Linked DNA regions of Homo sapiens. The protein of the gene in region 1 purifies or fractionates together with the protein of each later gene. This does not show direct contact. Each region holds a gene or a part of one and is shown on either strand. Other genes may lie near its edges. The genes, in order: THEM5, CARHSP1, CYP24A1, OAT, KGD4, NFU1 and GTPBP10.

Evidence for each region.
Region 2: the proteins of THEM5 (region 1) and CARHSP1 purify together in Homo sapiens (co-immunoprecipitation; one large-scale study listed by IntAct). This does not show direct contact.
Region 3: the proteins of THEM5 (region 1) and CYP24A1 purify together in Homo sapiens (affinity purification with mass spectrometry; one large-scale study listed by BioGRID and IntAct). This does not show direct contact.
Region 4: the proteins of THEM5 (region 1) and OAT purify together in Homo sapiens (co-immunoprecipitation; one large-scale study listed by IntAct). This does not show direct contact.
Region 5: the proteins of THEM5 (region 1) and KGD4 purify together in Homo sapiens (affinity purification with mass spectrometry; one large-scale study listed by BioGRID and IntAct). This does not show direct contact.
Region 6: the proteins of THEM5 (region 1) and NFU1 purify together in Homo sapiens (co-immunoprecipitation; one large-scale study listed by IntAct). This does not show direct contact.
Region 7: the proteins of THEM5 (region 1) and GTPBP10 purify together in Homo sapiens (affinity purification with mass spectrometry; one large-scale study listed by BioGRID and IntAct). This does not show direct contact.

The regions. Positions count from the first base shown.
Region 1 is NC_000001.11:151,850,913-151,854,893, forward strand, and holds the start of THEM5 (acyl-coenzyme A thioesterase THEM5), read right to left. Parts: upstream 2,801-3,981; 5' UTR 2,654-2,800; coding exon 2,531-2,653; intron 1,548-2,530; coding exon 1,346-1,547; intron 624-1,345; exon of another isoform or gene 280-623; coding exon 141-279; exon of another isoform or gene 1-140. UniProt on the Homo sapiens protein: Has acyl-CoA thioesterase activity towards long-chain (C16 and C18) fatty acyl-CoA substrates, with a preference for linoleoyl-CoA and other unsaturated long-chain fatty acid-CoA esters.
Region 2 is NC_000016.10:8,855,727-8,859,006, forward strand, and holds part of CARHSP1 (calcium-regulated heat-stable protein 1), read right to left. Parts: intron 2,747-3,280; coding exon 2,624-2,746; intron 1-2,623. UniProt on the Homo sapiens protein: Binds mRNA and regulates the stability of target mRNA. Binds single-stranded DNA (in vitro).
Region 3 is NC_000020.11:54,167,487-54,170,986, reverse strand, and holds part of CYP24A1 (1,25-dihydroxyvitamin D(3) 24-hydroxylase, mitochondrial isoform 1 precursor), read left to right. Parts: intron 1-1,298; coding exon 1,299-1,395; intron 1,396-3,500.
Region 4 is NC_000010.11:124,401,924-124,405,423, forward strand, and holds part of OAT (ornithine aminotransferase, mitochondrial isoform 1 precursor), read right to left. Parts: intron 1,998-3,500; coding exon 1,875-1,997; intron 1,133-1,874; coding exon 1,004-1,132; intron 1-1,003. UniProt on the Homo sapiens protein: Catalyzes the reversible interconversion of L-ornithine and 2-oxoglutarate to L-glutamate semialdehyde and L-glutamate.
Region 5 is NC_000005.10:69,220,760-69,224,259, reverse strand, and holds part of KGD4 (alpha-ketoglutarate dehydrogenase component 4), read right to left. Parts: intron 1-3,500. UniProt on the Homo sapiens protein: Molecular adapter that is necessary to form a stable 2-oxoglutarate dehydrogenase enzyme complex (OGDHC). Enables the specific recruitment of E3 subunit to E2 subunit in the 2-oxoglutarate dehydrogenase complex (OGDHC).
Region 6 is NC_000002.12:69,413,436-69,416,935, forward strand, and holds part of NFU1 (NFU1 iron-sulfur cluster scaffold homolog, mitochondrial), read right to left. Parts: intron 1,865-3,500; coding exon 1,750-1,864; intron 1-1,749. UniProt on the Homo sapiens protein: Iron-sulfur cluster scaffold protein which can assemble [4Fe-4S] clusters and deliver them to target proteins.
Region 7 is NC_000007.14:90,345,315-90,349,515, reverse strand, and holds the start of GTPBP10 (GTP-binding protein 10), read right to left. Parts: upstream 2,801-4,201; 5' UTR 2,775-2,800; coding exon 2,742-2,774; intron 1-2,741. UniProt on the Homo sapiens protein: May be involved in the ribosome maturation process. Complements an ObgE(CgtA) function in E.coli ribosome maturation. Plays a role of GTPase in vitro. When missing, disorganization of the nucleolar architecture is observed.

The DNA.
Region 1 (3,981 bases):
GAGGCTGAAGCCTAGTGCCCCACACTCCCTTCCTCACCCCTTAGAGAAAGATAGAGACTCCAGGGCCAGCCTGGTGGGTGCTGAACCTGCCCTGCTGAGCCAAGCCCAGGAGGCAGCCAAGGTCCTACCAGTGACCTTACCCTGGGGGCCCCTCCAGGTAGGAGCCTGGTTGGAAAAGACAGACCGACTTCTTCTGGGTTGGCTGGAAAAAGATGACATACTCAAAGCCTTGTCCTTCCACTTGGATGCACCTGGTGAAGATGCGACAGTCACCTTTGTCTGGGGAGAGATAGGCAGTGTTGCAGCCGGAGAAGGGAGGGTATGGTCAGGATGCAGCACCATTTGGTTGAGTCTTGCCTCTGGTACAAGATTAAGGAGAGAAAACCAGAGGACACCAGGTCCACCCCCAGGGAGCCTTCCCTCTGGGAGCAGAGGCACAGTTGCTGTCCTCACAGAGCCTTTCTGTCTAGGGCAGAAACATGCAGGAAGTGCCCTGGCTGAGAATGGAGATAGGATCAGGGCCAGGGCAAGACTTTAAGAGACCATAAGCATTGAAAATTGAAAATGTAATTACTCATGTAACTCACATATAATTCAAAAGAATAATAGTAAACAGTAAAATAAGAGCAGAAAAGTCCATCAAAGTTCTGATTTTTTTTTTCCAAGACAGCTACCACTACTACATCCTTTTTTGGAAGTATCAAATTCTTTGAAAAAAAATTATGTTGGTATTCCTGCTTTGTTTGTGCCATAAACCCAAGGGTAGTCTGTCCCCTGTACCACTCCTTCATCACTAGGCAGGAAGACAACATATATGAGTGAGAGAGACAGGGAGATACACATGCGTGCACACACGAGTGCACACACACACACAAGAAGGTGGAAGCTCTATCATTAGGATCCATTAGGATCATTAGGTGTTTCAGGAGTGCTGCTCCAGACCCCGCACAGCAGGGATGATGTGCAGGGCCTCAGTGGAAGGGGTGTGGGGTCCAAGGGCTTTCATGGGGTTGGGGCGGAAGGCTTGGGATGAGGCTTGATAGTTAGGGAGGGGCAGTCAGTGAGAAGTCGGGGCAGGAGCTGGGCTGGCTGTCCTCCAGTGGGGACATGCTTGGCTGGGAGCGAAGGTGGGCCCACCAGGGTGTGCTGCTTCAGATGGGAGGAGGGGAGCTGGAGACCTGAGAGGACACCCGCCGCCTGTTGCCTGGGGCTGCAGCATCAGGGGTGGAGTTGGACAGCAGGAAGAACTCGCTGAGAACTGGAAGGCGGTCTGTGAAGTTGCTTCTCAGTCTTAGAACACAGGGAAGGGCGGCTGGGGTGTGTGTACTCATGGTCCTGTCCTTACCTGAGGAAACTGCCAGTCCAGATGGGAGCTTGAGTCCCCGGATGTGGTCTCTGTTGGACTTGAAGGAGGGCAGCTTGATCCAGCCGCTAGACTTAGTCTTCTCCAGAAATTCTTGGTACAGGCTCAGCATGTCCGAACACCAGCTGGCATTGGGAAGAGCATAATCCTTCAAGTCTGTCTTCTCTGGCAAGAATCTTGAGAACTGGGCAGGAAAAATCAGAATGACTAGACAGCATCCTGGAGGGGGGCTGCTGCCTGGGCTCGGGACCTCTAAACAGCTGTTCCTGGGTGCTGGGGCTTCTCAATCCCTTCTGCCAGAGTATCGATCCAAGGGAAAGGGCCCATATTCCTTGCAGGGGGGCTGCGGACCCCTATGGGTGACGGGGCATAAGGATGCTAAAGAGCAAGGGAAGGGCGGGCAGGGAGTGGGGCCAGAGATGATGGGCATGCTGCTCGATGTGGTGCCTTACCCTTGTTCTGCTTAAAACATGTGAGCAGTTCTTTAAAGTTGACAACTGCTCATATTAGCCTCACTGTACAGATGGGGAAACTGAGGGAATACGGCCAAGGTTGCCAAGCATGTGACTGTGAGAGCTGGTGGTCGCACTAGATGCTGTCTCCTCTGCAGGGCAGGGTCACAGTTGTTGAGGACCATTCTAGCAACCCCCACCTCAGGGGCTACTCCAGCTCTGCCCACTGCTGTGGGCCTGCCTGGGCAGGGTGGCTCCTTTGAAACACATTTGGGCCCCCACAGAGGTGTGGTGCCATGGCTGGGGCACAGACTATGTGCCCATCTGTGTGACGTAAGGAAGTCCTCTGTAGCGTCACCTGCTCATACACCAGTCACAACTGTAGACAGCATGTGAGCTGCTTGCCAATGCCACAGATGGGGTCCTCTGTCTGGGGATACCCCAGCTTTGCTGCAGTAGTCTGAGTCCCACAGGAGGAAAGTCATTTGTTGGTGGCCACACAAGACACAGAGCCAGATGCAGGTCTCCTGGTAGTTTTAGTTTTGAATGGGGGCAACTTGGTATCCCAGAGCACTTTCTCTTTGCCAAATCAAATAGCTCCTCCGAACACTGCCCACCTGCCCTGGCCATGGGCTGGGAAGAGGAGATTTGGGGTGCTCCTTAAGCCCTAGGCTCCTGGGAAAACACTGCCCATCTGGCTGAGCTGGGAACTCACCATGGAGTCTGTGGAGGATCCAAATGCTGAGGCAGGGTTGAGTCTGGGCAGGATACGGGGGGCCTCAAGAAGGCCTCTGTGGTGGCCAAGTCTTGCTGCCACCTGGAAGCATCTCCTTATCATGGCCAAGTGCAAGGATCCAGCCCTGCTTGGATGGAGGGTCTTGGCTGACTCCCAAGGAGTGCTTTCAGCTGCACTTGGGGCCGCTTCTCTCCCTTCTGTTGCAGGCTTTCTTTCAGAGAGCTAGGCGAGGCTGGGCTGGTGTGCTGCAACACCCACAGATGCTCGGCGCCTTTAGCTGGTCTAGGAGCCCCACCCAGTGCTTGGGGAGGGACAGATGCTGCTTGGGCATGAAAAGGCAGCAGGACTGGCTTGAGTTGCAAAAGGAGTAAACAAGTACATAAACAAATAGTATGGGGTATATAGAGCCTTGGAGAGCTGCCTGGGGGTTCTGAGGGAGAATCCAAGAATATTTCCAGAAGGATAAGGGAAGCCTGTCCCTTGATTGGAGGGTGCTGGTGGAGTGTTCTTGGTATGTGCTCTGCAGTGTATACCGGACTCTGAAAACTCTGGTATGATTTTGTGACTCAGAAAACCAACTCACAGGCCGGGTGCGGTGGCTCACGCCTGTAATCCCAGCACTTTGGGAGGCCGAGGCGGCGGATTACGAGGTTAGGAGATCGAGACCATCCTGGCTAACACGGTGAAACCCCGTCTCTACTAAAAAAAATACAAAAAATTAGCCGGGCGTGGTGGCGGGTGCCGGTAGTCCCAGCTACGCAGGGGGCTGAGGCAGGAGAATGGCGTGAACCTGGGAGGTGGAGCTTGCAGTGAGCTGAGATCTAGCCACCGCACTCCAGCCTGGGCGACTGAGCGAGACTCCGTCTCAAAAAAATAAAAATAAAAAAATAAAAAAAAAGAAAACCAACTCACAGCCTTAGACACCTCTTTTTTTTTTTTTTTTTTTTTTTTGGTGAGACGGAGTTTCAATCTTGTCGCCCAGGCTGGTGTGCAATGGCGTGATCTCGGCTCACTGCAACCTCCGCCTCCTGGGTTCAAGTGATTCTCCTGCCTCAGCCTCCTGAGTAGCTGGGATTACAGACACACACCACCACACCCAGCTAAATTTTGTATATTTTTTTTAGTAGAGATGGGGTTTTGCCATGTTAGCCAGGCTGGTCTTGAACTCCTGACCTCAGGTGACCTCCCAAAGTGCTGGGATTACAGGCGTGAGCCACCGCACCCGGCCAACACCTCTTCTTATATCCCGGACAAGGGTTAGCACAGGAGAGTTTCACCTGCTGGTCTCTGGCTGGGGATAGGAGTTGGAGGTGGGGGAGGGCTTGACAGGGAGGGCAGAAAATAATTTGGGAGGAAACAGCTTGGCAGGGATACTCTCATGTTTTGGGAACCCCGTGCCCAGGGAGTGGCTCATGTCAGCAGGCAGTGCT
Region 2 (3,280 bases), on another chromosome or scaffold:
CTGGGCAGGGCTTTCCTGAGGTCCTCAGCACTGCAGCCCCTGGTTCCAGGAGTCTCAGAAACCGCACCGTGTCTTTGTTCTCAAATTCCCCAGTTTCCCAGCCTGCCTTTTTTTGAGACAGAGTCTTGTTCTGTTGCCCAGGCTGGAGTGCAGTGGTGTGATCTCAGCTTACTGCATCCACCTCCCGAGTTCAAGTGATTCTCCTGCCTCAGCCAAGTATCTGGGACTATAGGCACCACAGCCAGCTAATTTTTGTATTTTTAGCAAAGTCAGGGTTTCACCATGTTAGCCAGGCTGGTCTCAAACTCCTGACCTTAAGTGAGCCACCTGCCTCAGCCTCCGAAAGTGCTGGGATTACAAGCGTGAGCCACCACGCCTGGACTCCCGGTGAGCCTTCAAGAAGGTCCCTTTGGTGCATGAAGCTAGTTCCTGGAGGGGCCTCTCCCTGTGACCACCCCCAGGAAGGTTCCCTTACTTTCTAGGGGACATGAGTCACCCTCTCACATGAGACTGGCATCTTGATGTCCCCTTGATGAAACCCCCCCAGAGGAAAACCCCCTTCAGATGCTAAATGCAAGGGCCAGCCAGCTCCCCTAGTAACTGGTTTGTTTTGATTGGAGAATCGTATGGTGAAGAGTGTTTCCCTCTTTGATCTGGTCACGAGGGAGCTCAGAAATAAATCTGCAGCCTACTTCCAGCAGCAGAACCAGACATCACAATATTTCCATCTTCCTAAATATTTCTTTGCCCCAACCTCTATGTTTTCCTTACTGATTCAAAATCCTTTCTGGGACAAGGCAGTATGGAAATACCCTTACACATCCATGTATGCATGCATATGTGAAATGCGTCACCTTGGTATTCTCCTGCCTGCCGATCTGATAGGTAAGCATGGGGCGGGGGTGGGCAAAGGAGGGGTAACTCCCCCATTGCAGTGGGCTCCTCTTTTCAGAAATGTGGTTTCCGTGTTAGCGGGTATGCTGTGCAGAGTAGGACTCTGTCTGCCCCTGCCTGAAGTAAAAGACTTGGGGGTGCTTAGGCCAAAGAAGCAGGTAGGGACAAGGGTGCAGATCGAGGGTCCTCCCCTGTCTAAAGGCTGCCCAGAGGATCAGAGGTGAAGCATGGGGGGCTGGGTGCCTTCCAGCCCAGCCCTAGGATGTGTGCGCCCCACCCCCGGCTCCCCAAGGGTTTTCAGACACTCAGGAAGGAAGGACGTCAGTAAGCATGCAGGAGGAGAAAGACCCACCCCAAACTTCCTTCCTGGAGCAAAGGGGCAGGACAGCCCCCAGCCTCACCAGTCCACCTCCCCCAAAGGAGGGCAGGAAGCTGGACTGGTCCCCAGGCCAAACAGGGCTCCCCAGCCTCATGGGGTGTCCTTGGCCAGATATAATGGGCACTCGGACTCACCCCAGCAGTCCCTGCTGCTCACACACATGCACCATGCACAGCTGACACCACCCTGTCTCCCACAAGCATAGTCGGGCACCCCCAGATCCATTTCCATCACTTTCTGGCTATGTGATCTTGGGCAGATCTGTTTTTTTTTTTTTTTTTTTTTTTTTTTTTTTTTTTTGAGATGGAGTTTTGCTCTTGTTGCCCAGGCTGCAGTGCAATGGCGCGATCTCGGCTCACCATAACCTCCACCTCCTGGGTTCAAGTGATTCTCCTGCCTTAGCCTCCGAAGTAGCTGGGATTACAGGCACCCGCCATCATTCCCCGCTTTTTTTTTTTTTTTTTCTATTTTTTTGTATTTTTGTGATGACAGGATTTCACCAGGCTGGTCTTGAAGTCCTGACCTCAGGTGATCCGCCTGCCTCCGCCTCCCAAAGTGCTGGGACTACAGGTGTGAGCCACCATGCCCGATCCTTTTTTTTTTTTTTGAAATGGACTTTCACCCTTGTCACTCAGGCTGGAGTGCAATGGCGAGATGTCGGCTCACTGCAACCTCTACCTCCTGGATTCAAGTGATTCTCCTGCCTCAGCCTTCCGAGGAGCCGGGATTACATGCACCTGTCACCACGCCCTGCTCATTATTTTTTTTTTTTTTTTTTTGAGATGGAGTCTTGCTCTTGTTGCCCAGGCTGGAGTGCAGTGGCGCAATCTCGGCTCATTGCAAACTCCGCCTCCCAGGTTCACACCATTCTCCTGCCTCAGCCTCCCGAGTAGCTGGGACTACAGGTGCCCGCCACCATGCCCGGCTAATTTTTTTTGTGTTTTTTTAGTAGAGACGGGATTTCACCATTAGCCAGAATGGTCTGGATCTCCTGACCTCGTGATCCACCCACCTCGGCCTCCCAAAGTGCTGGGATTACAGGCGTGAGCCACCACGCCCAGCACACACAAAACCTTACACACCCATTCACAAAGACACACCCAGGGACAATCACAAGTACCGTGTCGCCCCCAGCCTCACATCCCCCAACACAGCTCCGTAGAGTCTCACAACCCCAACCCAACACACACACAGGAGCACAGCTGGAGCACCAGCCACAGGCAGAGTCACACAGGCCCAGCCATTCGTCCTCACACCCAGCGCCCATCAGAGTCACACACCATCCCCACCTCCACAGGGCCAAGGAAGCGCCCACCCCAGCCAGGCCACCCAGACCTGCCGCTGACTCACTCAGAGATGTGCAGGAAGATGTCGGGGCCGCCATCAGCTGGAGTAATGAAGCCATGGCCCTTGGACCGGCAGAAGCATTTGCAGACTCCTTTGTAGACGGGGCCCTGTGAAGCCCGCACCGTCCTGACAGAGAGGGGGAAATGTCAGGGGCCCCATCAGCGCTCCTGGGCACACAAAGCTCATTCCAGCCCCTGCCCACAGCTGTGCCCCATCAAGCCCTGGCCAGGACCGCCATGTACAGTCACACAGGCTGAGGACTGCACAACCCTCAACCCTGGGAGCCGCTCACAAAGACGCTGGGGGAAAGGACTCTTTGGATGACCCTGGCCAATTTTCTCGGGCCTGTTTTCCCTCCTGGAAAGAGGGAGTTGAACTAAAACATCACTGAACATCCCTCCAGAAACTAATGATTTACTATTAATAACACAAGCATCCTCCACTCGCAAGGCCTGAGACCTGCATCTGCCAGGCATTATGTGGGTCCTTTGCAGCCCTGGTGCTGTGCCCATTTTGCAGCTGCAGAATTCACAGTCTCACAGGGAACCAGACTCTCATGTGTGGTTAAAGCCCAGCGATTCTGACCCCAGCAACTGCCCACCCATTGCCACTCCCAGCTGGTAACAGGTTCTTCTGGGCTGGGCAGTACCCTGAATTTAC
Region 3 (3,500 bases), on another chromosome or scaffold:
ATACTGGATAGGTCTTAACAATATTTTTGTATTATACTAAGGTATTTGGACATTATCCCTTAGCCAGCACGGAGTCAAAGGGAGTTTTAAGCATAAAGTAATCTCTTTTTACTTCTGTTCACTTTGGATGTTTATTTTGAACTGGATGCGTCCCCAGATGGGATCATATAGGTGAAGGATTGCAAACTCAGAAGCTTCCAGGGCTCACATGACTAATATAAAATAATAAGGCAGACCCAGTAAAAATTTCAGGAAACGTGATAGTGCATGCCCCTCCCAGGAGGGACAGCAGCCCCAGTTCCAGCAAACGAATGCCATGTCAGAATGCAGACCTCATGTCACCAAGTCTCATAATTATTATTTACATTTTTAAACTAGTAGTGGTAAATCCATATGTTCATATGAAACCTCTTGTTTTTTTTAATGGTAACAAATTCAAAGAACTTTTAAATGCGCTATGCGGGCAAATTAAACTTGCAAACTAAATCCACACATGTGGGCTGTATGGCCACACCAGCTCACGGCAGGGTCCAGGATGGCAACTTATCAGCTCTGTGTGCATAAGTGAGTGACTTGGCCTCTTTAAGCCTCAGCTTTCTCATCTACTACATGGGAAATGAGTAGAGACGGTACCTACTACTACTTGGTTGTCAGAGGATCAACCAATACACTTCGTACAGTGTTTGGTACCATATGGACCTCATTAAATGTGAGGCATTAGTTATTGAAAACTCTGGTTTATGAAACTGGCATCCAAAGGTCTTATGTGACTATCCCAAGGTCATAGACTACTTAGGGAAGGAGCTGTGTCCAGAATTGGTAGATCTTCTGGTTCCAAGTTCAACATGCTTAACATAACCACCAACCAATAAAGAGACGTTTGCTTGCCCAGATGTGGAAGGGCACACCTCAGGATAGCTGCTGCAACACAATCCTTGAGATGCTGGGCCAACAGGGACAGTTAGCTGATTCCTTTGTGGTTTTATTCCCCCATTCTGATTAGAAAAAAAAAATGTTTTCCTTTTCTTAAATTGCCAGAATTATTTTTAGATCAAAAGCTGAAACTTAAGCTTCAGGGTGGCTTCAGGAAAAGCTCAGGAAATAACCCAGGACGAGGTCATTAGGGGATAAGGTGGGTTCCCAGGGAGAATATATAATTAGTGTGACTTCAGGATGAATAACATTATGGCCAGTGAATATGCGATGTAGCAAGACCTGAAGTTAGCTCAGTGAGCTTTAAAGTTTTGTTTTCCTTCAACGGCTTTAAAATGTGTCTTTTGCGGTTGTTTTCTTTGAAGGTCTTGGCCGATTTTATGGGCAGAATAGATGAGCTCTGTGATGAAAGAGGCCACGTTGAAGACTTGTACAGCGAACTGAACAAATGGTCGTTTGAAAGTAAGTTGTCGTCACAGACTTGCTCACTGATTTTGCAGGTGATTTTGCGGATAAAACATGGCTCTTTTGACAACTCTTTTGTAAACAGGCATTATTGCTGCCTAGGGAAAGGCCAGAGCAGCCCTTTTAATGCTTCTTTTAGGTGCTTAAGTTATGCCTTGAACTATGGATTGTTAATGAGTCATACAACAAACATTTGTTGAATACTTGCTGTGTGTCTGGCACTGTGCTAGGTACTAGGGATATGACAATGAATGAAACGCATAACCCCTGTACCCTTGGGGAGCTTATATGCTAGACAAGGTGACAGTCAACAAGTAAACACATTTTAAAATATACTCTTCCAAGGAGTAAAGGAAAAGAGAAAGGGAGTTAAGAAAGAACATGAAAGGCAGGCATGGTGGCACATGCCTATAATCCCAGGACTTTGGGAGGCTGAGGTGGGCAGATCGCTTGAGGCCAGCCCAGGAATCTGAGAACAGCTTGGGCAACACAGCAAAACCTTGTCTCTACAAAAAATACAAAAATTAGTCAGGGTTGGTGGCACATGCCTGTAGTCCCATCTACTTGGGAGGCTGAGGTGGGAGGATTGCTTGACCCCGGGACGCTGAAGCTAAAGTGAGCCGTGATTGTACCACTGCATTGCAGTCTGGGTGACAGTGTGAGACCCCGTCTCAAGAAAGAGAGAGAGACAGAGAAAGGAAGGAAGGAAGGAAGGAAGGAAGGAAGGAAGGAAGGAAGGAAGAAGGGAGGGAGGGAGGGAAGGAAGGAAGGAGGGAGGGAGGGAGGGAGGGAAGGCAGAAGGGAGGGAGGGAAGGAAGGAAGGAGGGAGAGAAGGAAGGAAGGAAGGAGGGAAGGAAAAGAAAAAGAGAAAGGAAAGAAAAAAGAAAAGAAATAAAGAAGAAAAGAGAGAGAGAGAAAGAAATAACATGAAAGAATGAAAGAGGGGCAAGTCTTTTTTAGTAAGAAGACATTTGAGGTAAGTCCTAAAGGAAGGGAAGGAGCAAATCATGAGGGTACCTGTGGAGGATTGTTCCAGGCAGCAGAGAAGAAAGTGCAAATGCCAGGAGGTGGAAGCATGAGCGCCGAGTTTGAGGAACTTCAAGCTGCTGGTGTGAGTGGATCACGATGAACAAGCTGGGAGGAAGGGGAGCCTGTGAAAGGAGATGAGGTCAAAAAGAAGGCAGGTGTCCAACAGGGCACAGCTCATAGGTCCTGGCAAGACTTTACCTCTCATCTGACTCAGATGGGGCAAGTAAGGGAGGGAGGACATGACCGCTTTCTTCAAAGATTACTCTGGAAATAAAGGGCAGAGCTCACTGCCCATGGGGGTGCAAGAGGAGAGCAGGCAGCTGTGATCAGGTGGGACAGCGCCTGGCTGAGGACATTCAGGGCTGTGGGAGAATCTGAGAGGGCCACCTAAGCCGGACATGGCCAGGGGTCGCTTCACAGAGATGGTGCCCCTCAGCTAAGTCCTGATGGTTGAGTAGGAGTTCACCAGGTGAAAAGGGAGGAAGGAGAGTGTCCCTGCAGAAGAAGTGCGGAATGACAAGCATATCCTGTAACAGAGGCTGGCAGAGGGCCAGCAGCCAGCTCATGGAGGGCTGTATGAGCGGGAGTTTGAATTTTAGCCTGTAAGTAACCGGGAGCTGCGGGAATGTATTCAGCAGCAGTGTGATATATGGGCAGATTTACTGGGAGGATCACTGTGGCTGCTGATGGGAGGGATAGAAGGAAAACCTATAACACTTCCATAAATTCAAGGTCAGAAATATTGCCATAAATAGATAAATATAAGTAACTTTTTTTAATTACTTATTTGAGACAGACTCTCACTCTGCCCCAGGCTGGAGTGCAGCGGCGTGATCTCGGCTCACTGCAACCTCCACCTCCTGGGTTCAAGCGATTCTCCTGCCTCAGCATCCTGAGCAGCTGGGACTACAGGTGCACACCACCATGCCTGGCTGATTTTTGTGTTTTTTAGTACAGATGGGGTTTCACCATGTTGCCCAGGCTGGTCTCGAACTGCTGACCTCAGGTGATCCACTTACCTCAGCCTCCCAAAGTGCTGGTATTGCAGGCGTGCGATACCACGCCTGACTAAC
Region 4 (3,500 bases), on another chromosome or scaffold:
CAGGCTTGAGTGCAGTGGCGTGATCTCAGCTCACTGCAATCTCTGCCTCCTGGACTCAAGCAATTCTCCTGCCTCAGCCTCCCAAGTAGCTAGGATTACAGGTGCCCACCACCACACCACACATGTTATTTATTTATTTATTTATTTTGTAGTTTTAGTAGAGATATAGTTTCACCATGTTGGCCAGGCTGGTCTCGAACTCATGACCTCAGGTGATCTGCCTGCCTCGGCCTCCCAAAGTGCTGGGATTGCAGGCATAAGCCACCACACCCGGCCAAGAAACTGATACTTAATGACTTCAACGAAAGAGTTTACATCTGCCAACCTAACTACCAGTAACAACCTAATGACTTAGTCATACCCTAAAACATTACAAATACTTTAGGTACACTTCAATGGCACAAAACAATATAATTTTGCAACTAAAAGAGAAAAGCTATTTCTGCAATGATATAATTTCACAATCACTTCCAACGTCGAGATGAAATGCTTTGTTTAAATGCTTAAAAAACAAAGCTGAGCATTCTTTTTAGCAAAAGTTTTGTCTATTCAGCAAAAACATCTATACTTCAGAGACCTCTGATGTAGTAACAATTACTGGCTCTGAAAGGCAAACCCAAGACATGAACTACAACAAACATTAATTTTTCTCAGTCTCTTTGTTCACCAGTCATGGTTTTAAACAATTAGTAATATGCCATGTTTCTGAACACTGGAAAAAAGGACAGGAGTCTACAGGAGTCCTTTGGGGGTAAACTGTTTCCACCCAAATCCAATGTCATAGCAAATTCCAAGGCACACTCAATTCTTCAGGCAATAAGTAAGTGGGTCACACACTGGTCCCTTAAATGTTTTTATTACAGATATTCCGGGTGGCCTGCAGCACACTTGGTAAAATCAAACAATCTGAAAGCATTGTTGTCACAATCAGTTGATGTATAAATACTTTAGGGGTATATTTTACAAGAGTAGGAAATGGAAAGAGGGGGAACATGAAACTTACAGGGTATAAGCCCCCAGAAAGGGCCTTTCCAAGGAGGACTATATCAGGTCTGACATTTTCATAATCAACAGCCAGCCATCTACCAGTTCTGGCCAATCCTGTCTGTATTTCATCAGCAATAAAGAGAACCTATTGGGGAAAAAAAATACCCCTATTAGTGATCACTTTCGTTTCCACAGGGAAAATAGCCATCCTTATTTCACTGTCCCCCCACCAACAATAAATGTGTAATTCTGATGTGCCCTCAAATTTGTAAAAATGTTTTAACTGCACACAATTTCAAGAGTATCCTATAAGAATCTTGTAGACTCACCAACTATTTCCTTTGTCAGGCCACTATCTCCCTAGAGGCCCATTCTGCCCTGCTCTACATAGTGAAAAGGTGCTGATGCAAAGGTGAGGGTTTTGTATGGCTTTTCTGGACCTAACTACCCTCTGGGAACAAATTAATTCATTTGTTTATTCCACAAGCATTTAATATGTGACAGAAACTCTCAAATGGTAAACAAAATATACTACTATTAGCCCTGGGGGAAAGGAGGAGAGAATACAACAAAGGGCTTGCGGGGGCTCAGAGTGAAAGGCTCTTAGAGCAGCGAGGAAGGAAACGCTGTTAAGACCAGGTCTGCAGTTCTGCACAGGGCCCAGGACAAGGCCAGAGACAGGAAAAAGTCTGCTTCTGTGCAGGTTTCTAAGCACTAGGAAGTACTTAAGCTCTTAGAATGCCATCGCCCTCTAGTGGAAAGTAATTTAATCTTTGCATTTATCCAATCAGCAGAATTCAGAGAGGAGTTGGGGAGGAGCCCATTCAGCCTCATCACAAACAGCTAACTCGACATTCAGCCTTATCACAAACAGCTAACGTGACAACCTGGTGCCTGGTGCAGAGCTCTCGCACTCCCATTAGGTAACCTGGATCCGGAACAACAACGCCTGCTTCACCCTGAATTGGTTCTACCATGAACGCAGCCACATTTGGATCCTGAAGAGCACGCTACAGAAGAAACAGGAATAAGTTTTAATAACTTCCTTTCTACCACACTTGGAAATCTGAAAGCATATACCACACATATTTTACATTAAGTATGCAAATCAAGTTTTCGCACTAACGTAAATTCTGACTTCAAATTCACTGCCATTCAATTATCAGAAGCTCCAAATACCTCACCTTTAAGTTACACTAGCCTACATTTCCTTTTTTGCCTCATTCTGTTGCCCAGGCTGGAGTATAGCAGCACAAACATGGCCCACTAAAGTCTCGAACTCCTGGGCTCAAGGTGATCCTCCTGCCTCAGCCTGCCAAGTAGCTGCGCACCATGCCCAGCTAATTTTTTATTTATTTTCATTTTTTTTTTTTTGGAGATGGAGTCTCACTCTGTCACCCAGGCTGGAGTGCAGTGGCACGATCTTGGCTTACTGCAGCCTCTGCCTCCTGGGTTCCAGCAATTCTCCTGCCTCAGCCTCCCAAGTAGCTGGGATTACAGGCGCACAGCACCACGCCCAGCTAATTTTTTTTTGTATTTTTAGTAGAGACAGGGTTTCACCACTGTCTCTGGTTTCACTGTTGGCCAGGCTGGTCTCGACTCCTGACCTCAAGCAATCTGCCTGCCTCGGCCTCCCAAAGTGCTGCGATTACAGGCGTGAGTCACCGCGCCTGACCTTGATTTTTAAATTTTTTTGTAGAGACAGGCTCTCCCTATGCTGCCCAGGCTGGTCTTGAACTCCTGAACACAAAGTGCTCCTCCAGCCCTGGCCTCCCAAAGCACTGGGATTACAGGCATGTACCACCATGCCCAGCCTGTTTTCTAATACACAAATGTACCTAAATTAAATCTGGCTGGGCACAGTGGCTCATGCCTGTCACCCCAGCACCTTGGGAGGCCAAGGTGGGCAGATCACTTGAGGTCAAGTGTTCGAGACCAGCCTGGCCAACGTGGCGAAACCATGTCTCTAAAGAAAATAGAAAAGTTAGTTGGGTGTGGTGGTGTGTGCCTGTGGTTCCAGCTACTTGGGAGGCTGAGGCAGGAGGATCACTTGAACCCAGGAAGCGGAGTTTGCAGTGAGACGAGATTGTGCCACTGCGCTCCAGCCTAGGTGACAGAGTGAGACTCTGTCTCAAAAAAAGAAATTAATTACTTAAATTAAATCTAAAGTAAATAGCCTTTTAAAGCCAACTTAAGGCTTTCTTAAAAAGTCTTCCACTTCATAATTTTAAAAAGCTAGCTAAAAACAGAAATTTTACCTAGTAAGTAAGCAGGTATACCGAAGTTAACTGTTATGAAGGACACACATCTAAAGTAGTTGGCTGGCTGTACAGAGTAGATCACAGAACTCAGCTTTCTCTGTGTTGGAAACTAATTGATCGCTACTGAGAACAAGTCTGAAATCGTGGCTTAACTTAAGTGAGATAAATTTGCATTACTGTCATATAATGTACTTTTAATTCATATATTCAACAGCTTTAATTTCTATTCCCAATGAGCTGAGCACTATGATG
Region 5 (3,500 bases), on another chromosome or scaffold:
GCCACCACACCCCGCTAATTTTTGTATTTTTAGTAGATATGGAGTTTCCCCATTTTACCCAGGCTGGTCTTGAACTCCTGACCTCAAATGATCCACCTGCTTCGGCTTCCCAAAGTGCTGGGATTACAGGCATGGGCCACCATGCCCGGCCCAAATTAAAACATTTGATAGCACTTTATTTTAGTCTTTTTCCTATACCCATAGGAATACTTTTTTTTTTTTTTTTTTAGACAGAGTCTTGCTGTGTCACTCAGACTGGAGTACAGTGCCGCAATCATGGCTCACTGCAACCTCCGCCTCAAGGGTTCAAGTGATTCTCCTGCCTCCGCCTCCCAAGTAGCTGGGATTACAGGTGCCCGCCACCACACCCGGCTAATTTTTATATTTTTAGTAGAGACAGGGTTTCACCATGTTGGCCAGGCTGGTTTCGAACGGCCTCCCAAAGTGCTGGGATTACAGGCGTGAGCCACCATGCCTGGCCTGGAATACATATTTTTGGAATACTGTTTTTGGAACAGATGTTTGAAAAGTATTAACATTTTTGTCCGTAAAATTCCAGATAGTGGTACAGAGGACCTTAAATGGACCTGTCAATATGAAATCTTCTGAATATACAATGCTAAGAATCTAATGAACAAAGTACTATTTTCAACTAATCTATAAATTGCTATGTAACGAATAAGACTGAGGTGGGTTTATCTGCAATATATTTATATATTTGTAGTACATATTATGCATTTTATGTGGGCACAGAAGCAAATAGGTATGGGATTGGCCTAAAAATTCACCACTGTAATTCTGTGGCTGTGAGAAAATGCTGGAATGTGTTCTCTCCCTCACCATAAAATCATGCTCAAGTCTTCCATGCTAAAAAACTTCTCGGCCGGGCATGGTGGCTCACACCTGTAATGCCAGCACTTTGAGAGGCCGAGGTGGGTGGATCATGAGGTCAGGAGATCGAGACCATTCTGGCTAACACGGAGAAACCCCGTCTCTACTAAAAATACAAAAAAAGTAGCCAGGCGTGGTGGCACACACCTGTAGTCCCAGGTACTCGGGAGGCTGAGGCAGGAGAATCGCTTGAACCTGGGAGGCAGAGGTTGCAGTGAGCCGAGATTGTGCCACTGCACTCCAGCCTAGGTGAAAGAGCAAGACTTTGTCTCAAAAAAAAAAAAAAAAAAAAAAGCTGCGCACCGTGACTCACGCCTGTCATCCCAGCACTTTGAGAGGCCAAGGCGGGTGGATCATGAGGTCACGAATTCAAGACCAGCCTGGCCAAGACGGTGAAACCCTGTCTCTACTAAAAAAATAAAAAAATTAGCCGGGCGTGGTGGTGGGCGCCTGTAATCCCAGCTACTCGGGAGGCTAAGGCAGAAAATTGCTTGAACCCTGGAGTGGAAGTCCGAGATCGAGCCACTGCACTCCAGCCTGAGTGACAGAGAGAGGCTCTGTCTCAAAAAAAAAAACTTCTCTATTAACTGTTTCTTCACTTTCATAGCCAAGCTTCTTAAGAGAATGTTCTATCTATCCTATCATCACTCCCCTATTTAGAAGTTTGAAAACTGGCTGAGGTCAGTGGCTCATGCCTGTAATCCCAGCACTTTGGGAAGACGGCTTGAGCCCAGGAGTTTGAGACCAGCCTGAGCAAGAAGATGAGACTCCCTCTCTACAACTTAAAAGAAGAAAAAAAAGAAGTTTGAAAAATGTTCCACAGCTTTCAGGATAAAGTTCAAACTCTTCTTTGGCACTCACAACACCCATTGTGATCTGGCCTCTCCCTACTTTGCCAGCCTTTCTCCCCTACTGTCTTATGTACCCATTGCTCCAAGTATTCTGAAGTATTTTTCCTTTCCCCAATTCATCCTATTTATCCTCATTCCATCTACAGCTTACGTCCTCTGCCATGAAATCTCCCTCCTATCCCATTCCACTTCCATGCCTATCCTTCTGACTGCTTATCCTTTACAACAGCTCAAATGTCACTCTTCTCTAAGAACCTTTCCCAAATTCCAAAGTCTGAGTTAAAAACTCTCCTTATGTTTTCAGAGGACAGATAAGTTAGCCAATGATTATAGAAGAGCACTAAGCTCCTGGACAGTCAGAGACAGAAAACTAAGCACTTCTGCAGTAGCATTCCTGTTACATGGTAAATGCCCAAGTAACAGTTGCCAAATACGTGAATAAACCATTTGTAAGTTAGGTCTAACTGTATAGGCATGTAAATATGTATTATATACTTATACAAATGTACTTTTAATAGATATGGGGTTTTGCCATGTTGGCCAGGCTGGTCTCGAACTCCTGACCTCAGGTGATCTGCCCGCCTTGGTCTCCCAAAGTGCTGGGATTACAGGCATGAGTCACCGTGCCCAGCCTTATGTTTTCTATAATAGTCTTTTATCAGATATGTCTTTTGAAAGTATTTTCTCCCAATATGTGGCTTGCCTTTTTTTGACAGTGTCTCACAGAGCAGAATTTTTTATTTTAATGAAGTCCAGCTTATCAATTAATTTTTCATGGATCATGCCTTTGGTGTTATATCTAAAAAGTCATTCCTAAACCTAAGGTTATTTTTATTTTCTCCTATGTTATATTCTAAGGGTTTTATAGTTTTGCATTTTGCATTTAGGTCTAGGATCCATTTTGAGTTAATGTTTGTGAAGAACGTGAGGTCTGTGTCTAGATGGATATCCAATTTTTTCAGCACCATGTTGAAAAGACTATCTTTTCTCCATTGTATTCCCTTTGCTCGTTTTGTCAAAGATCAGTTGACTATCTCTTTATTTTTACCTTTCCAAATCTTAGTTTTAGCTATGCCTCTTATAAATAGCATAGCACTGGATTTTCATTTGTTAGCCAGTCTGAAAATGTTTTACTTTATTATTTATTTTTTGAGACCAGGTCTTGCTCTGTTACACAGGCTGGGGTGCAGTGGAGTGATCGTGGTTCACTGCAGCGTCAAACTCCTGGGCTCAAGTGATCTTTCCACCTCAGCCTCCTAAGTAGCTAGGACTACAGGTACACACCCACACACTACCCCTCCTGCCTGGCTAATTTTTTTTTTTTTTTTTAGTATTTATTGATCATTCTTGGGTGTTTCTCGGAGAGGGGGATGTGGCAGGGTCATAGGATAATAGTGGAGAGAAGGTCAGCAGATAAACACGTGAACAAAAAGGTCTCTGGTTTTCCTAGGCAGAGGTCCCTGCGGCCTTCCGCAGTGTTTACGTCCCTGGGTACTTGAGATTAGGGAGTGGTGATGACTCTTAACGAGCATGCTGCCTTCAAGCATCTGTTTAACAAAGCACATCTTGCACCGCCCTTAATCCATTTAACCCTGAGTGGACACAGCACGTTTCAGAGAGCACGGGGTTGGGGGTAAGGTTATAGATTAACAGCATCCCAAGGCAGAAGAATTTTTCTTAGTACAGAACAAAATGGAGTCTCCTGTGTCTACTTCTTTCTACACAGACACAGTAACAATCTGATCTCTCTTTCTTTTC
Region 6 (3,500 bases), on another chromosome or scaffold:
ATATAGCAATTCCACTTTTAGGAACATAATCTAAAGAAGCTCTCGGCCAGGCAGGGTGGCTCACGCCTGTAATCCCAACTTTGGAAGGCCAAGGCAGGTGAATCCACTTGAGGTCAGGAGTTCGGGATCAGCCCGGCCAACATGGCAAAACCCCCTCTACTAAAAATACAAAAACTAGCTGGGCGTGGTGGTGCATGCCTGTAATCCCAGCCACTCGGGAGGCTGAGGTAGAAGGATCGCTTGAACCTGGGAAGCAGAGGCTGCAGTGAACTGAGATCATGCCACTGCACTCCAGCCTGGATGACAGAGCAAGACTCTGTCTCAAAAATAAGGCCGGGCACGATGGCTCATGCCTGTAATCCCAGCACTTTGGGAGGCCGAGGCAGGCGAATCATGAGGTCTGGAGTTCAAGACCAGCCTGGCCAACATGGTTAAACTCTGTCTCTACTAAAAATACAAAAATTACCCAGGCATGGTGGTGGGCGCCTGTAATACCAGCTACTTGGAAGGCTGAGGCAGGAGAATCACTGGAACCCAGGAGGCAGAGGCTGCAGTGAGCCGAGATCACGCCACTGCACTCCAGCCTGGGCAACAGAGCAAGACTCTGTCTCCAAAAATAAATAAATAAAAATAAATAAACAAATAAATAAAGAAGCTCTCCACATATTCATAAACAGACTTGTATAAGGATGCTCACTACAGCAATGTTTTCAATAAAAATTAGTACAAAAACTTTACTTGAACATAAAGGAACAAATTAACTATATCTTATTCCTATAATGAAATGCTATCCAGCACATAAAATGAGTAAACTAGAACTATGTTTTTTGAAATGGATATGTTTCAAAAATATTACACTTAGTAAAAAAGACAATTTGCAGTATAATACAAGATATTTAAGGTTAGGCACGGTGGTTCATGCCTGTAATCCCAGCATTTTGAGAGGTTGAAGCCAGGTGATCACTTGAGGTCAGGAATTCAAGACCAGCCTGACAAACATGATGAAACCCCATCTCTACTAAAAATACAAAAATTAGCTGGGTGTGGTGGTGCACACCTGTAATCCCAGCTACTTGGGAGGCTGAGGCATGAGAAACACTTGAACCTGGGAGGTGGGGGTTGCAGTGAGCCAACATTGCGTCACTGCACTCCAACTGGGGTGACAGAGTGAGAGTCTGTCTCTAAAAAAAAAAAAAAAAAAAAAAAACAGAGATTTAAAACTTAAAAACAAAAACTAGTCTTATATATTCCCTGCAGAGACTTACATGTATAGTATAAAACAAAACAAGTTTTCACACATCTCTGGAACTAGGAAGGGAAAAGGGATGGGGGTACAGTGGTTTTAGCGGTTTCTTTTTTTTACTTTATGCTCTATATTCTGACACTGTATGTTTAATATTTTATTTAAAATGAGTCTAAAGCAACTGTGGCAAAAGATAACATTTGTTTTGTTTTTCCCAAAAGCCCATTCTGTAACTTAATTAACATTTGTTAGATATGAGTGGAGGGCAAATTGGTGAGCATGATATTTTCTGCATGTTTGAAAATTTTTATAATTGAAAATTTTTGTTTTATAGAGTAATGCCAATTTATACACAAGCTTTCAAAATGATATATAAATTTGCAGAGCTAAATATATTAAATGATAGAAATCTAGATTCCTATGACTTCTGAAATCAAGGTAAATGTGAAGAAAATAGAAAAGTCTAAAAAAAGGACAAATTTTAATTACTCAATACAACATGTTACCTGCTTCTCCTGAAGGTGTTTCCTCAGTAACCAGGGGTAAGCCAGATGCAAAGAAGTCCATGATTGTTGCATAAATATCTGGTTTCAGTAAATTCCAGTCTAATTCTTCATTTTCCTATAAACATTTAAAGGAAAATGCTGTATTTCCAGGCAACGGCAAAGACCCATACAGAACACTACCTTATACCTCTTTTTTCTTTTTTTTTTTTGAGATGGAGTCTCACTCTGTTGCCCAGGCTGGATGGAGTACAGTGGTGTGATCTTGGCTCACTGCAACCTCCGCCTCCTGGGTTCAAGCGATTCTCCTGCCTCAGCCTCCCAAGTAGCTGGGACTACAGGTGTGTGCCTTGAACATAAAGGAACAAATTAACTATATCTTATTCCTATAATGAAATACTCTCCAGCACGTAAAATGAGTAAACTAGAACTATGTTTTTTGAAATGGATATATTTCAAAATTATTATACTTAGTAAAAAAGGCAATTTGCAGTATAACACAAGATATTTAAGGTTGGGCACGGTGGTTCATGCCTGTAATCCCAGCATTTTGAGAGGTCGAAGCCTGACCTCGTGATCCACCCACCCCGGCCTCCCAAAGTGCAGGGATTACAGGCGTGAGCCACAGCGCCTGGCCCCCTTACACCTCTTAAGAAGCTTTTCCTGGTCAGGTGTGGTAGTTCATGCCTAATCCCAACATTTTGGGAAGCTGAGGCAAGAGGATTGCTTGAGTCCAGGAGTTTAAGACTAGCCTGGGCAACATAGCGAGACTTCGTCTCTTTTTATATTTTTAAAAATAATAAAGGGAAAGGAAGAAAGAAAAAAGAGAAAAAAGCAGCAGAAAAAAGGAAAGGAGGAAGGAAGGCAAGCAGGCAGGCGAAGAGAGGAAGGTAAAAGGGAAAGGAAAAGAAAAGAGATAAAAAGAAAAGAAAAGAGGAAAGGAAAGGAAAAGAAAAAATATCTTTTCCTATATACACACTATACCTATGCAATGGCAACCACTTCTGGAGAATATATATTAGCTCCACATCTTAAAGGGTCCTGTTTAAACGAATTTCAGAAGATAAAATCTTAAAGATCCCCCATTCATTAATTCATTCACTTATTATTATTAATAATATAATTATAATTTATAATTAATAAAAATTAATATTTAATTAATTTAAATATAATTATTAATATATTAGTAATAATATTATTATTAATTCATTCACTTTCATTGTTTTAATTTGATTTAAATGATTAAAAGATGTTTTTCATGATGTGAAGACAAAATATTAAATGGATTTTCTGTCTTTAAAGAAGATGATAAAGAGATTCCCATTCTCTTAAAAAAAACATAGGATGTAATTGCTTGATCAAGTATACGGAACAGCCTACAACTATTCAAAAAATTTACTTATATATATTACTTAAAGGGTATGAAAGAAATTTGGCTGGGCATGGTGGCTCATGCCTGTAATCCCAGCACTTTGGGGAGGCCGAGGCGGGTGGATCACCTGAGGTCAGGAGTTTGAGACCAGCCTGGCCAACATGGTGAAAACCTTTCTCTACTAATAATACAAAAATTAGCCGGCGTGGTTGCAGAGGCCTGTAATCCCAGCTACTAGGGAGGCCAAGGAAGGAGAATCGCTTGAACCCGGGAGGCGGAGGTTGCAGTGAGCCGAGATCGTGCCACTGCCCTCCAGCCTGGGCGACGGAGTGAGACTCCATCTCAAAAAACAAAAAAAGGAAACAATATAGAGATAGTACAT
Region 7 (4,201 bases), on another chromosome or scaffold:
CCATGGATGCTTTCTCCCTGAAGTCAGGAAGTACCTTCCCAATACGAGACTGACTTGTAAAGTTCCTCTGCTAATGGACAGTGCCCCACCTCCCCGCTACCCAGAACCCCATGAGTTCAACATCAAAGGCACTGAAGTGGTGTCCTTGCCCCCAAACACAATGTCTGTAAATCAGCCTCTAGATCACGGGGTCGCAAGGACCTTTAAGGCTCATTAAACATGATTTTCTACGAAAAGGATTGTCAACCATGGAAAAGAACACTAATAGAGAAAACTTCAGGAAAATCTGAAGTTTACATAATTGAAGATGCCATTATTATTGAAAAAGCCATGAAAGCCATAAGCCCCAAACAGTAAGTTCGTGCTGGAGAAAACTTTGTCCAGGTGTTGTGTTGTGTTATAATTTCACAGGATTTACAAAAGAGCCAATCAAGGAAATCATGAAAGAGGCTGTGAATATGCCAAAAACGGCGGGAAAGTGGGTAAAGGACTTCAAGATATGGATCTTGAAGAAACTCAAGAGCTAACAGCCACCAAACCAGAGGAATTAACAGAAGACAGCTTGATGAGTGCTTCAGATCCAGTGCCAGATAACAAGGAAGAAAACACAGAATAAACTACCAGAAAAACGAACATTAGATAATCTGGCAGAAGAGCTCCTATTGTTCAGGACTGCTTTTGACTTCTTTTATGACATGGACCCTTCTGTGAAGAGGCACTGAAACCAAAGCAAATGGTGGAAGAGGTATTGGTACCCTATAGAAACATTTTTTTGGGGGAAAGAGAAAAGCAAAAGCATGACAGAAATTATGATGTACTTCCATAAAGTTACACATAGTGTGTCTGCCTCTCTTGCCTCCCCTTCCACCTCCTCCACCCCCACCCCTTCTGCCTCTGCCACCCAAGAGAGCAAGACCAACTCCTCCTCTTCCTCCTCAGTCTATTCAACATGAAGACTATAAGGATGAAGACCTTTACAATTCACTTCCATTTAATGAACAGTAAATATATTTTCCCTTCTTTCTGACTTTCTTAGTAACTGTTTCTTTTCTCTAGCTTAATTTAAGAATACAGTATATACTATATATATATTTTATATGTGTCAACTGACGGCTTATGTTATCAGTGAGGCTTCCAGCCAACAGATTATTAGTAGTTGTTTTGTGGGGGGAGTTGAAAGTTACATGAAGATTTTCAGCTGTGGCGGGGGCATCTCTAACCCCCATGTTCTTGAAGGGTCAACTGTATATCCAAAGCTACTAAAATACCCTTCTGGTATCTTTTATTTTCTTTTTTTTGAAACAGGGTCTGGTTCTGGTGCCTGGGCTCGAGTGCCGTGGCACTATCATAGCACTATCATTGCTGCAGCCTCAAACTCCTGGGCTCAAGCAATTCTCCCACTTCAGCCTCCCAAATGGCTGGGACTACAGGCACCACACCACCCCGACTGTTTTAAAGATGGGGTCTTGCTATGTTGCCCAGACTGGTCTTGAACTCCTGGCCTTAAGGGATCCTCCCACCTCAGCCTCCCAAGTAGCAAGAACAATAGGCTCACCTACCATGCCTAGTTCCTTCCTGTATCCTTTTCACTTGCTCAACCCTTCCTCTCTTCCTCTTTGCTCTGTACTACATGAAATACCGCCATTTCTACATGCCATTCTGCTCATGCTTTTCCTCTACTTAGAATGTCATTTGTTTTTCCTATCATAAATCCACCTAAACGTCATATTTTCTAACGTCTTTCCAAATTCCTCTAATCAATTCTCTGACTTTGCTGGCTCTCCCAGCAATTTGATTATATCTCTATTATTACACCTTTATAAATCTCACGCTGCATTTAGTGTTTACCTGTTTCCTTCACTAAATCAAGAACTTCTTGTAGGTAAAGGACTTACGTATTAACCTCTTAGGCTATTAAAATCAAAATAACTTAAGGAGTAATTTCTTAAATTCATAATCCACATCTCTAGTCATTTAGGATAGCTATTATAAAAAACAAATGGGATTTTTTTTTCAAGAAAGTTGAAATATTGACCATTCTGATATACTCGAGGAGAGTTTCTACAGTTCCATTAAATATGTAACACTTTTTTCCTGCTCTAGATTAATCAGATTCAGGGGTTTAGGAGCCTTACTTAAAAGGAGTATTTTACTCTGGTCGTTAGAAATAAAGTAATGGCCAAATATGACGCAGGCAACGTTTCAAAAAGCATTACTGATAGGATAAGATTTAAAAAATAAAAATTCAAAGCAGTTGTAAATTTTTACGGAAACGATTCTTAAGACCGACACCACACAAAAATCGACCTAAATGTTCTGCAGGAAGGCACATCAATTACACGCTTTCGTGTCTTCATAAAAATCCATTAGAAAAACCTTAAACAGCGCACTCAAGGAGAAATATATAAAAACAGGCTGTGGACATTAAAGGAAAAAAAACCACCACAACATTTGGGCCACAGCAGGCAGGTATCCCAGTTCCTCATACCACGTGCACACTATGTCTCTAAAGAACTTCAAACCCTGCCCCTGCCCCCAAACAACCGTCCAAACCACGCCAGGTACACACACCACTGTCACCGCTTACTGACAAAGCGCCACTACAGGAGGGGCGGAGAAGTCTATGGGAAAACCAAGCAAGGAAAAGGCCGCCACGAAGACAGTAGTGGAGAGACAGGGGAGCAAAGAAGAACCAGAGCTGTCAGCGCTAAGGGGACCAGGCTGAGGGGACCCGCACGGACCTTTCTGAACAACACGCAACTGCAATGCACCATGGCTGCAACAGGCCAGGAAACCTTCTTGCGGAAGCGGCACAAGCCGCAGTACAGCGCGGCCTTTTTACGTCATCCCCTGCCGCCGACGCGATTTCTCCTCCGCCCACACCTGCGGACTGGCGCATGCGTTGTGTGATGCTCTCGGGCGCCACCAGCCCCATGCGCTGTGCTTTGCACCCCACGGGTGGGGAGAGAAGGCGTTTTATCTATTAAAACACAGAGATAATCTCGAGAAGCCGTGGGACAAAGGACAGTAGGGCGTAGGTTGCGTGTCTCAGGAATTAACATTTTGAATGGAATGGAACTGAAGACTCAGCAGCCTTGGAGCAGCTTTTATGCTAATTGAGGAAACTAAGAATCTTCACCCTCAGCGTGAAAAAACCTCCAACGGACCATAAAACCAAACGTGTAAAAGACACAGAAACTCAACTGGGAAAAAAGAACCCCCAAAAGCCGTTAGTTCAGTGACGAGCTGAGTAGTCTCCAGCCAAAGCTTCCAGGAGACCATGAATTTAAAACTAGCGGCCGCACAAAGTTTTATTGAAAATAATGTCAGGATCTGAGATCTGTAAGAGGACTCTCCTGTGCAGTAAGAGAAAGAAGCTTGTTTACAACTGTCAGAAAGTAGCTTCTTGGAGTCGGGAAGACGGGTTTTTATCCGTCATTTGAAGCGTGCCTTTGTGAGAATTAAGACACGATGTGAAAAATCCCTCTCTCTCTTGATTACTTTTCAGGACCAGAAGAGAGTAGCTCTCCCCAACCCCTCATGCAGCGAAAAAATGTATGCAGCTGAAGTAAACGGCCCTGCACAGCGTTGCCAGCCGTATAACTCTTAACAACCCAAACTAATAAATCCTAGAAACCTTTCATACTTTGATACGATATGGCTCTGTGTCGCCACCCAAATCTCATCTTCATTTGTAATCCCCATTGTGGAAGTAGGGAAGTGATTGGATCATGCAGGGCTGTTTCTCTCCTGCCGCTCTCCTGATAGGGAGTTCCCACAAGAGCTGACGGTTTTATAAGTGTTTGGAAGTTCCTCCTTCTTTCTTCTCTCTCCTGCTTGCCATGTGAAGAAGGTGCTTGTTTCCGCTTCCCCTTTTGCCATGATTATAAGTTTTCTAAGGCCTCCCCAGCCATGTAGAACTGTGAATCAATTAAGCCTCTTTCCTTTATAAATTACCCAGTCTGCGCAGTTCTTTATGGCACTGTGAAAACTGACTAATACCTCAATGTGACAGTGTCTTCTACTCCTCACTTAGGACAGTGATTATTTGGAAAGACATGATGTGAAAACCCCGTCTTGATTACTTTGCTGCTACTGGACCTTCTGCTTACAACCACCAATCAGAAAAGCTGTAGTTGTCATTTAACCTGCAGTAGTTGTATTTTCCCTCTGTGGATTACTTTAATGTTGAATATTAACA